Linked DNA regions of Homo sapiens. The protein of the gene in region 2 purifies or fractionates together with the protein of the main gene of each other region. This does not show direct contact. Each region holds a gene or a part of one and is shown on either strand. Other genes may lie near its edges. The genes, in order: COL14A1, IL31 and KIAA0319L.

The links.
Region 1: the proteins of IL31 (region 2) and COL14A1 purify together in Homo sapiens (affinity purification with mass spectrometry; one large-scale study listed by BioGRID and IntAct). This does not show direct contact.
Region 3: the proteins of IL31 (region 2) and KIAA0319L purify together in Homo sapiens (affinity purification with mass spectrometry; one large-scale study listed by BioGRID and IntAct). This does not show direct contact.

What each region holds. Positions count from the first base shown.
Region 1 is NC_000008.11:120,225,963-120,229,614, forward strand, and holds part of COL14A1 (collagen alpha-1(XIV) chain isoform 1 precursor), read left to right. Parts: intron 1-664; coding exon 665-804; intron 805-1,257; coding exon 1,258-1,390; intron 1,391-2,747; coding exon 2,748-2,807; intron 2,808-3,652. UniProt on the Homo sapiens protein: Plays an adhesive role by integrating collagen bundles. It is probably associated with the surface of interstitial collagen fibrils via COL1.
Region 2 is NC_000012.12:122,172,061-122,175,812, reverse strand, and holds the start of IL31 (interleukin-31 precursor), read left to right. Parts: upstream 1-1,591; 5' UTR 1,592-1,640; coding exon 1,641-1,656; intron 1,657-1,820; coding exon 1,821-1,969; intron 1,970-3,071; coding exon 3,072-3,401; 3' UTR 3,402-3,752. UniProt on the Homo sapiens protein: Activates STAT3 and possibly STAT1 and STAT5 through the IL31 heterodimeric receptor composed of IL31RA and OSMR. May function in skin immunity. Enhances myeloid progenitor cell survival in vitro.
Region 3 is NC_000001.11:35,550,886-35,554,537, forward strand, and holds part of KIAA0319L (dyslexia-associated protein KIAA0319-like protein), read right to left. Parts: intron 3,635-3,652; 5' UTR 3,607-3,634; coding exon 3,465-3,606; intron 1-3,464.

The DNA.
Region 1 (3,652 bases), on a different chromosome or scaffold from region 2:
TGGTGTCCTATCAAAAAGTTGGGTTTTTATGTTTTTTTTTTTGTTTTTAAACTCTGACTTCAAATAATAAAAATCAATTCTTTGATAATTTATTTTGGGTGCAGTTGGGTGTTATACTTTCTGTTGTACATCCCAGAAGTGTGTAAGCTCTGAAACAGTGGAAGGCCTGATAAATTCTATTTCATTTCTGATGACCACCATATGTACAAGTTAAAAGATTGAAGTTTCTTTTCCAGGATTAATACCAGGGAGCAATTTAGCCACTAAAGCAAATAGAACTAAAAGGGAAGCTTTCTTAGGCCCCTATTTTGTTAATTTCCTCAAGATACTTGGAAAATAATATTTAAAAAAAAAATGAATATGGCACTCTTGTTTTTTATAGTTAATGAAAACAGCCAAATAGAAAAGCTAAGAGTTTTGGAAATTACTGGAAAAGTTTTAAGATCTGTTATTTCCATGGTTTCCCTAATTTATGATATTGGTGAATGCTGGAAACAGAAATGGAAGGCCACCCTGGACTGATGGGCCCCAGTTTTCCTTCTTTCCTGTGCTTTCCTAAAGCAAAAGATTCCTCAAAGAGTCTTCTACACCCCTGGGAGATACTTGGGTTTTGGCTTTCTTGCCTTCTCATTTCCCTAACAAAACCTCCTTCCTCGGTTTACAGAGGAAGTTCCAGCCCAGCAATACTTAGAAATTGATGAGGTGACGACAGACAGTTTTAGGGTGACCTGGCATCCCCTCTCAGCTGATGAAGGGCTACACAAATTGATGTGGATTCCAGTCTATGGGGGGAAGACTGAGGAGGTGAGTTTTCTGAAACAGACTGAAAATTAATCTGGAGCATTAGTGAATACCTACTGCTGCTGGAGTTGGTCTTCACTTTAAAATATATTAGGAATCCCAGAAGTAATTAGTATTTTACATGGCTTGGAGTTTTAGAAATGTCAAATCATAAGATTTTCCTAATATTATGATGTATTGTTGCCAGAGCTTTAGTTATATATTTATATATTTTCAGATTCTTTGACTTTAATAAATGACATTTAATACAACTTTAAAATGTCACTTTTGCAATATTAATAATTTATTTGCTGAGGGGATTGAAAGGAATAAAGTCTCTGGCTTGACCTTAAAATGGACTTCGACAGCCTTGGAGTTCTTTATGATTGGTTGTTTCTTGCTTATGCTCAGAATAACACTTTTTCTTTACTTTTTTTTCAAATAAGCATAGTTACTAAGCACCAAAATATATTTCAGGTTGTCCTGAAAGAAGAGCAGGACTCACATGTTATTGAAGGCCTGGAGCCCGGTACGGAGTATGAAGTTTCACTATTGGCCGTACTTGATGATGGAAGCGAGAGTGAGGTGGTGACTGCTGTCGGGACCACACGTAAGTCTTGGTCTGGCCACAGTGCGTTTTAGCTGCTCCCACAATCCCTCTTTACCCCATCAATTTCCTTCCCCATCTGCTTTATCTTTGGCTATGTAAGCTTCAATTTCTCTTTGTCCCCCAGAATTCTTCATATATCTTCACTTTCAATGAAACCAGTATGTGAAGCATCTTAGCTTCCTAGATAATGATCAACATGAAGGCAGGGACCATATCTGTGTTGCTCACCATTATATTTTCCAGGACTTAGCACAGTACTTGGCACATGTTAACTGTAGAGTAAACACCCATCAAATGGATGGATGGATAGATGAATGGATGTATGCAAGAATGGATAAAATAATTTACAAATGAATAGATTGCCAAACAAATAAACCTAGGGCCAACATGTCAAAGAGTTTCTGGAATTTTCCAAGTTGATATTGGTTCCAAGAGTCTTGTACAAAATTTACTTGCTGATTCATTCATCTCTTCATTTTTAAAATATGAGGTATTGACCACATATTAAATTGCCTTTGCCTGGGTTCCCTGGAACCAGATTCTAGACAGAAATTGCAGCCAGAAAGTTTATTGAAGAGTGCAGTTGGGAGATGCTTACGTAAAAAACTGAGGACAGCAGGAGGGGGCATGGGAAGAAGTTGAAACTGAACCCTCAGCTAATCTTATTATAATGGAGGTCTAGTGCTGGGATGACCCTTCTGAGTTGTCCCAAATTGAGACAAAGGGGCTGAGACTTCATACCCTTGCATCCCCAGTCGCTGGAGGTGAGCCATTCCCTGACAGAGGCCATGAACTCAGGCGAGACAGTTCCCAGAGCTGTGAACTGTTGGCAGGCAGTGTTCCAGCACCAAGTGGATTGGTGTGTTGACCCTAAAAAGAGGATCTGGGAAGAGCACCACATCTGTACTTCATTCTGCTATATGCCCACGGTGGCTGTAAGAAATAGAAGATGCATTGCTTGTCCAAGCACATTGCATTCCGTGGTGGTCCTGTTTGGCAGCCTTTTCACAACTTGGTCTACAGCACTGTCTAATTTCCCTTAATTACCATGGCTGTGCCCCTATTTCAAAGTAATTGGGTGGTTTCACAATTCTGTAGATGTAGTTCAAATGTTTATATGAAGCCTGGTATCTGTGATGAGAAACTTTAACATTCTTTGGGTTTCAGTTTTCTTATCTGTGGCACAGGTATGTCTGCCTTACTTACAATTCATTTCTTTCGTCTTCTAACCATTGTCATGTTTGTTGTGGGAGGCAAGTGAGATAATATAGGTGAAATGTTCTTTGAAAGCTACAACATGCTATAGAAAAATGGACAGTTGTTTTTGCAGCATTTTAAAGTAATATATTGCTTTTAGTTGACAGTTTTTGGACAGAACCAGCTACAACCATAGTGCCTACCACATCTGTGACTTCAGGTAAGGTCAAATAGTAGCCTGCTTAACCACTTTAAAAATTTTCTTTAAACAGATGTTATATTATCCTGGTTTTATTTATTATTAACTAGGAAAAGAGATGACCCTCCCTTCCTTTTCTGGCACACTGGTTCAAATTTCACGCCTCTCAGAGCCTCTCAACACCTTCCTTGCCACTAAATGCCCATGGATCTCCTAGTCAACTGATCTCACTGATACATCACTCTACCTCTTTCATCTTTGTCTGGATGCTCATGCACCTTACCTGGGATGTTAACGTAGCTGCCTCCCCAGGGGTCTTTGCCCTCCTCTTTTTTTTTTCTTTTTATTTTATTTTATTTTATTTTATTTATTATTATTATACTTTAAGTTTTAGGGTACATGTGCACAATTTGCAGGTTAGTTACATATGTATACATGTGCCATGCTGGTGCACTGCACACACTAACTCGTCATCTAGCATTAGGTATATCTCCCAATGCTATCCCTCCCCCCTCCCCCCACCCCACAACAGTCCCCAGAGTCTGATGTTCCCCTTCCTGTGTCCATGTGTTCTCATCGTTCAGTTCCCACCTATGAGTGAGAATATGTGGTGTTTGGTTTTTTGTCCTTGCGATAGTTTACTGAGAATGATGATTTCCAATTTCATCCATGTCCCTACAAAGGACATGAACTCATCATGTTTTATGGCTGCATAGTATTCCATGGTGTATATATGCCACATTTTCTTAATCCAGTCTATCATTGTTGGACATTTGGGTTGGTTCCAAGTCTTTGCTATCGTGAATAGTGCCACAATAAACATACATGTGCACGTGTCTTTATAGCAGCATGATTTATAGTCCTTT
Region 2 (3,752 bases):
TGCCTGTAATCCCAGCTTCTCGGGAGGCTAAGGCAGGAGAATCGCTTGAACCCAGGAGGCGGAGGTTGCAGTGAGCCGAGATCGTGCTATTGCACTCCAGCCTGGGCAACAAGAGCGAAACTCTGTCTCAAAAAAGAAAAAAAAAAATTAGCATAGTGATTTGTGCCTGTGGTCCCAGCTATTTGGGAGGCTGAGGTAGGAGGATCACTTGAGCCCAGGGGATCGGGGCTGCCGTGAGTTGTGATGATGCCACTGCACTCTGGCCTGGGTGACAGAATGAGACCCTGTCTCAAAAAAAAAAAAAAAGAAAGAAAAAGAAAGCTAATGAACTTAGAAATAGTTTCTAAGGCCAGAGTGGTGGCTCGCACCTGTAATCCCAGCACTTTGAGAGGCGGAGGCAGGTGGATCACAAGGTCAGGCGTTTGAGACCAGCCTGGCCAACATAGTGAACCCCGTCTCTACTAAAAATACAAAAATTAGCTGTGCGTGGTGGTGGGCGCCTGTAATCCCAGCCACTCAGGAGGCTGAGGCAAGAGAATTGCTTGAACCTGGGAAGTGGAGGTTGCAGTGAGCCGAGATTGCGCTACTGCACTCCAGCCCAGGCGACAGAGCAAGACTCTGTCTCAAAAAAAAAGAAAGAAAGAAAGAAAGAAAGAAAAGCAATAAAGTTTCTAGGCTGGCGCAGTGGCTCATGCCTGTAATTCCAGCACTTTGGGAAGCCGAGGCAGGCAGATCACCTGAGGTCAGGAGTTAGAGACCAGCTTGACCAACATGGCGAAACCCCATTTCTACTAAAAATACAAAAATTAGCTGGGCATGGTGGCACGTGCCTGTAGTCCCAGCTACTTGGGAGGCTGAGACTGAGGCATGAGAATTGCTTGAGCCCAGGAGACAGAGGTTGCAGTGATCACGCCACCGCACTCCAGCCTGGGTGACAGAGCAAGACTCCATCTCAAAAAAAAAAAAAAGAAAAAAGATATGAACAAGGATTTCAAGCAATAACTCTGGATCACAGTCTCTGGTTCTGGGCCCTGAGATTGCAGAGGCACGATGGAGAGTCCAGTGATGTCCAAGGCCACATGGAGTTGAGATGAAGCCTTCGACCCGCCACATTCACAGCAGTTATGGGGCCGTCCCTGCACACCGGCGTGGGCATATGCTGCAGAAATTTCCAGAGATACCGCATTCTGCACATCTCATGCCGGCTTCGCATTTCCTCCCCAGAAATTCCCTGTGGCCGCTGGCCTTGAACTCCTGGAAGTCACCCGCTCCTTGGTGGTATGGTCGTGTCTGTCAACCCTGGGCTTCAAAATTTTGTCTAGTCAAATCAACAGGCTCCTTCCAAGAAGAATGGCAAAGATGCATTCATGTGCCTTCTTGTGAAGTATGTGTGTGTCTGAGTCAGGCATCTGCCCACCTGGAGGGTAACCTCAGCATTTCCATTCAGCCCTTTCACTCAGCCGTGGCCAGTAGAACTTTTGAGTGTTTTCTGGAGAAAAGCTGAGTAAATGGTTTTGCCATGGGCGGGACGCTGACTGCTCTTTCTCCTCACCCTGGCCCTTTATATACCTCCAGGCAGCCATGGCGAACACATCTGGCTCCAGAAGCCCCCACTGAAGCTGGCCTTGCTCTCTCTCGCCATGGCCTCTCACTCAGGTATCACTGGTCCTGGTGCTTCCGGAGTCTTGGGCATCATCTTATCTCACCAGGAAGATTCTGGAAGCACTACCCCCAGGGTTGGCTCAGCAGGGCTGCAGGGATGGAGCCAGGGTGGGCAGGGGTGTGTGATGTATGCGCTCACGGCATCGTTCTCTCTCCAGGCCCCTCGACGTCTGTGCTCTTTCTGTTCTGCTGCCTGGGAGGCTGGCTGGCCTCCCACACGTTGCCCGTCCGTTTACTACGACCAAGTGATGATGTACAGAAAATAGTCGAGGAATTACAGTCCCTCTCGAAGATGCTTTTGAAAGATGTGAGTGTCCTAGAGATTTCTTTTCTAAACGATTTCTTAAAAATGCCTTCCATTGCCCTCCAAAGAGGCTCCTCTCTCCGGACCTGAAACCAGGGCTGTAGCTATGCCAGGAAGGGATGGGGGAAACTAGACAGGCAAAGATGGCTTTTTTTTTTTTTTTGAGACAGAGTCTTACTCTGTCACCCAGGCTGGAGTGCAGTGGTGCAATCTTGGCTCACTGCAACCTCTGCTTCCTGGGTTCAAGCGATTCTCCTGCCTCAGCCTCCCGAGTAGCTGGGACTACAGGCATGCGCCACCACGCCCAGCTAATTTTCATATTTTTAGTAGAGACAGAGTTTCTCCACGTTGGCCAGGCTGGTCTTGAACTCCTGACCTCAAGTGATCCGCCTGCCTTGGCCTCCCAAAGTGCTGGGATTACAGGCGTGAGCCACTGTGCCCAGCCAAGATAGCTTTGATCAAACAAACAAATGCCCAAACTTGGAAACAATTCATAAAATTGGCATTACTCTTCTCATCTGCCTTGGTATTTAGACCTTAGCCTTGGCTTTTATAAAAGGCAGAGGTTGTTACCAACCCAAGATGACTGGGCAGTTCAGGTTGATGAGGTGCTGCTGGCAATTTGGTCTGACTCTAGTTAGTACTTAGAAAGAGGAAGGGAGGGAGTGGTCCGGACTCCTTGGTTTGTTGGGGAAAACTCTCGCCTGCATCTCGGAGGCCTTTCCGGACAAGCCTAACACTCTCCTTTATAAGTGGAGCGTGCGTGGCTTTAACACAGAGTCCCAAAGGGCGGGGAGCTGCCATGGAAGGCCAGATGTGCTGCAATTCCCACCACCCTGAGCACGTGAGAGTGGGTTCTGGAAGGCTGGGAGGCCTCAGCTGGATGGATCAGTGGTTCTGAGCACAGGCTTCAGGACTGCAGCCACCTAAGCTCTAGTTTCATCTGGAAATGGGGTTGGTGATGGCACAGCCTCATAGGGTTGTGACATTGATCAGATAAATATATCAACGAGGCGGGTTACGGAGGAAGCATGCAAACATTCACTGTTAAGACTTGCAGCTGTCATTGCAAACCCAACACTGACCATTTCTCCTCATTCCACAGGTGGAGGAAGAGAAGGGCGTGCTCGTGTCCCAGAATTACACGCTGCCGTGTCTCAGCCCTGACGCCCAGCCGCCAAACAACATCCACAGCCCAGCCATCCGGGCATATCTCAAGACAATCAGACAGCTAGACAACAAATCTGTTATTGATGAGATCATAGAGCACCTCGACAAACTCATATTTCAAGATGCACCAGAAACAAACATTTCTGTGCCAACAGACACCCATGAATGTAAACGCTTCATCCTGACTATTTCTCAACAGTTTTCAGAGTGCATGGACCTCGCACTAAAATCATTGACCTCTGGAGCCCAACAGGCCACCACTTAAGGCCATCTCTTCCTTTCGGATTGGCAGGAACTTAAGGAGCCTTAAAAAGATGACCGACAGCTAAGTGTGGGAACTCTGCCGTGATTCCTTAAGTACATTTTTCCAATGAATAATCTCAGGGACCCCTCATATGGGCTAGTCCCGGGAGGGCTGAGATGTGAATTTGTGAATTACCTTGAAAAACATTAGGTTATTGTTATTAGTCTTGGTATTTATGGAATGCTTTTCTTCTGCAGGCTTAAGTCTTACTTATTATACCCTCGTGAGGGTGGGAGGTGGCAGCTATGTTAATTTATTGATATTTATTGTACTAAGAGTTGTCAATGCTCCCTGGGGGAGCCCTCGGAATCT
Region 3 (3,652 bases), on a different chromosome or scaffold from region 2:
TTTAAGACTGGATAGTATCCCACCATGTGGAGATGCAAAGATTTCACCACTCTCCTATAATTAAGCAGGTTTCAGCAATATTTTGCAGCACAGAATAAATGACTGTTGATCAGTGCTCTCATTCACAACTATCTAAGTGTATCCTTCAGATAAATTCTTAAATGAAGAATTAAGTCGAAAAATATGAATTTTTTTAGGGCTCTTGATATTTATGCCAAGAAGTTCTCTTTTCAAACTCCTCAGCACTATATGAGGACAACCACATCACCCCTTGGCAGCACTGGATAGTTTTACTTTAATTTTCATCAATATGATAGATTTAAAAGGATATCTCATTTTAATCTGTCGTTTTGATTGGTAATGAGAACGAACATTTTAAATATATTCATTTTAACTTCTTATTTATGGCACTCTGTTTATGCCTTTTATTTATTTGTTCTTTTTTCCTTTCAGATGGAGTCTCGCTCTGTTGGCCAGGCTGGAATGCTGTGGTGCGGTCTTGATTCACTGCAACCCCCGCCTCCCGGGTTCAAGCGATTCTCCTGCCTCAGCCTCCTGAGTAGGTGGGATTACATGTGCATGCCATCACGCCCGGCTAATTTTTTGTATTTTTAGTAGAGACGGCGTTTCACTATGTTGGTCAGGGTGGTCTTGAACTCCTAACCTCAGGTGATCCACCCGCCTCGGCCTCCCAAGGTGCTGGGATTACAGGCATGAGCCACCGCGCCCAGCCCTATTTATTTTTTCTATTAGGATATTCCTTTTAAAAAAAAAATGGGAAGGAGCTCCAATTAAATCAAAGTATATAACAAATATGTCTGTCACATGTTGCTTGCATGTTCCCTCAATTTGAACATACATGGCTCTTGATCTTTTAATTTCCATGATAAAAGCTCCAAATTTTTCTAAAATAGAACTGGCATAACCTAATCCCCACCAGAACTACACCTAACACCACCACCTTTGCACTTCTATACTTAATTAGGGTGCTGTTTTTAAGCACCAAGCTCAAGGTTACTAAAGACTTGCACAATGAGCCTACAATGCTGTGTTTAACCAAGTGCTAGATTGGAAAGCACAGAAAGACTTGGAATTGCTTCTTCATCCTCTATACTTTGAATCCCTCAAATAGGAAGCTGCTTACCATGGTACTGGGTAAAAAAAAAAAAAAAATTGCCACCAGGCATGGTGGCTCACGCCTGTAATCCCAGCACTTTGGGAGGCCAAGATGGGCAGATAACGAGGTCAAGAGATGGAGACCATCCTGCCAACATGGAGAAACCTGGTCTCTACTAAAGATACAAAAATTAGCTGGGTGTGGTGGCATGCGCCTGTAGTCCCACCTATTCGGGAGGCTGACGCAGGAGAATCACTTGAACCTGGGAGACGGAGGTTGCAGTGAGCAGAGATCGCACTGCGCCACTGCACTCCAGCCTGGTGACAGAGTGAGACTCCGTTTCAAAAAAAAAACCTTTGGTCCTCCAAAACATCCCCTATGGTTGGAAGGCAGAGTACCAGAAGAGAAAGAGTATGAGCTCTACAGTGGACAAACCTGGATTTAGAATCCTACCTCCACCATGTTCTTGCTGTGTGACCTTGGCCAAGTCATTCTGCCTCTCTAGGCCTCAATTTCCTTATCTATAAAATGAGAAGAAAACTATCTATTTTTGGGTTATCATGAAGATTAAATGAGATAAGGTATGTAATGTTTACAATTAGGAGTCTGGTATGTGGTAGGTGTGCTTCAAAAAATGTGATTTACACCAGGCATGGTGGTTGGTGTCTGCAATCCCAGCTATTCAGTAGGCCAAAGTTGGAGGATCGACTGAAGCCAGGAGTTCGAGACCAACCTGGGCAAAACAGCAAGACCCCATCTCCTAAAAAAATGTACAAATTAGCCAGGCAGACGGGTGTAGTTGCTCACATCTGTAATCTCAGCACTTTGGGAGGCCGAGGCATGCAGATCACTTGAGGTCAGGAGTTTGAGACCAGTGTGGCCAACATGGCAAAACTCTACCTCTACTAAAATATAAAAAGGATAAAATATAAAAATTAGCCGGGTGTGGTGGTGTGCGCCTGTAATTCCAGCTACTCAGGAGGCTGCGGCAGGACAATCGCTTGAACCTGGGAGGCAGAGTTTGCAGTGAGCCGAGATTGTGCCACTGCACTCCAGCCTAGATGATGGAGTGACACTGTCTTAAAAAAAAAAAAAATTAGCCAGGCATACTAGCTCATGCCTGGAGGCTGAAGCAAGAGGACAGCTTGAGCCCAGGAGTTTGAGGCTGCAGGCAGCTATGATGGCACCATCGCACTCCAGCCTGGGTGACAAGACCCCATCTCTTTTTTTTAAAGAAGTGATTTTTCCCTATTCTGATGGTGCTAAATCAATTACTTATTTAATTCTAATGATCTTATATAAAATGTTGACCTGAAATAGTCAGCTGTCCCAGCAAAGCATCATCTGGGGTAAAAAAAAAAAAAAACCATGTAGATCAGCTTTCTGTCAAGTACAACTTCCACTGCTATAATTATGCAATCATCAACCATCACTGCAAGACAACAAAAACCCCAAAGCTGATGTTACTGAAATTGCTAAATACAATAATTACTAGGGTCTCAAAATCATGACCACCAATTCCTTTAGGAAAGCAACAGAAATCTTTGTAATTATAAGGGAAAAAGGCTGATTAGTTATCCCAGATGGTGGTCTCTACAGCAGAAGGTTTTTGGTCACTGGCCAGAATGGCAGCATACACAGAAATCTTTCTCATATTGCTGTTTTCTCACACTCATACTATGAAAGCACAATATCAACAAAAGAACTTGAAAGAAAGAAAGAAAGAAAGAAAGAAAGAAAGGGCATTCTCCTTTGAAATTTAGCCTTCTTGGCACTGATTCCTGGCAAGAGGCTTTACCCTGGTGAAATAATCTCTAGGAGGAAAGCATAGTCTAAAAAATCTATCAACATAGCCCCTCTCTATGGAAAAAGTAAGGAACGCATTTTTCCCATAAGTGTAGATTCCTTTAGGAAAGGAAAGGAAGCTCAAGACCAGCCTGGGCAAATAGCAAGACTAAGCACCCATGCTGAGTGCTGTGCTACATGCTTTAATTATACTATCCCTCAAATCAAACCATGAGGTAGATAATAACCCTTCCTCAAAGATAATAGGTAATTTGCTCAAGGTTTTATAGTCATTAAGTGGAAATACCCAGTTGACTTTTATCAAGTCTTAAAACGGTTGTGCCAATTCTCCCTTATGAAAAAGAATCCAATTTAAACTCTGGTTCCAAAACAAAACAAATAAATAAACCCAACAGACCTCAGTCACCAAAAGGATGACCATTTCTGTCAATTAGCAGATTGTTTTTTCTGCCTCCTAATAGTCCTTAAAATGAACTGAGGGACTCACATAAAATGCCCTTTTCTAAAAAAAAAAATCTTAAATCTATAAAGAAAATAGTACCTGTTGACAACCACAGAACGCTGAAGCAAAAGCAAGTATAAAACAGGTACAGGCTTCTCAACCACTTCGCAGATGTCTGCCAATAATATCCTGATAAAATCCAGGAAGCAGGATTTGGCTTGACTCCCAGCCTCTTCTCCATGGCCCTCCAGACAGGCAGAACCAGTACACTAGAAGGACAGAAAGAG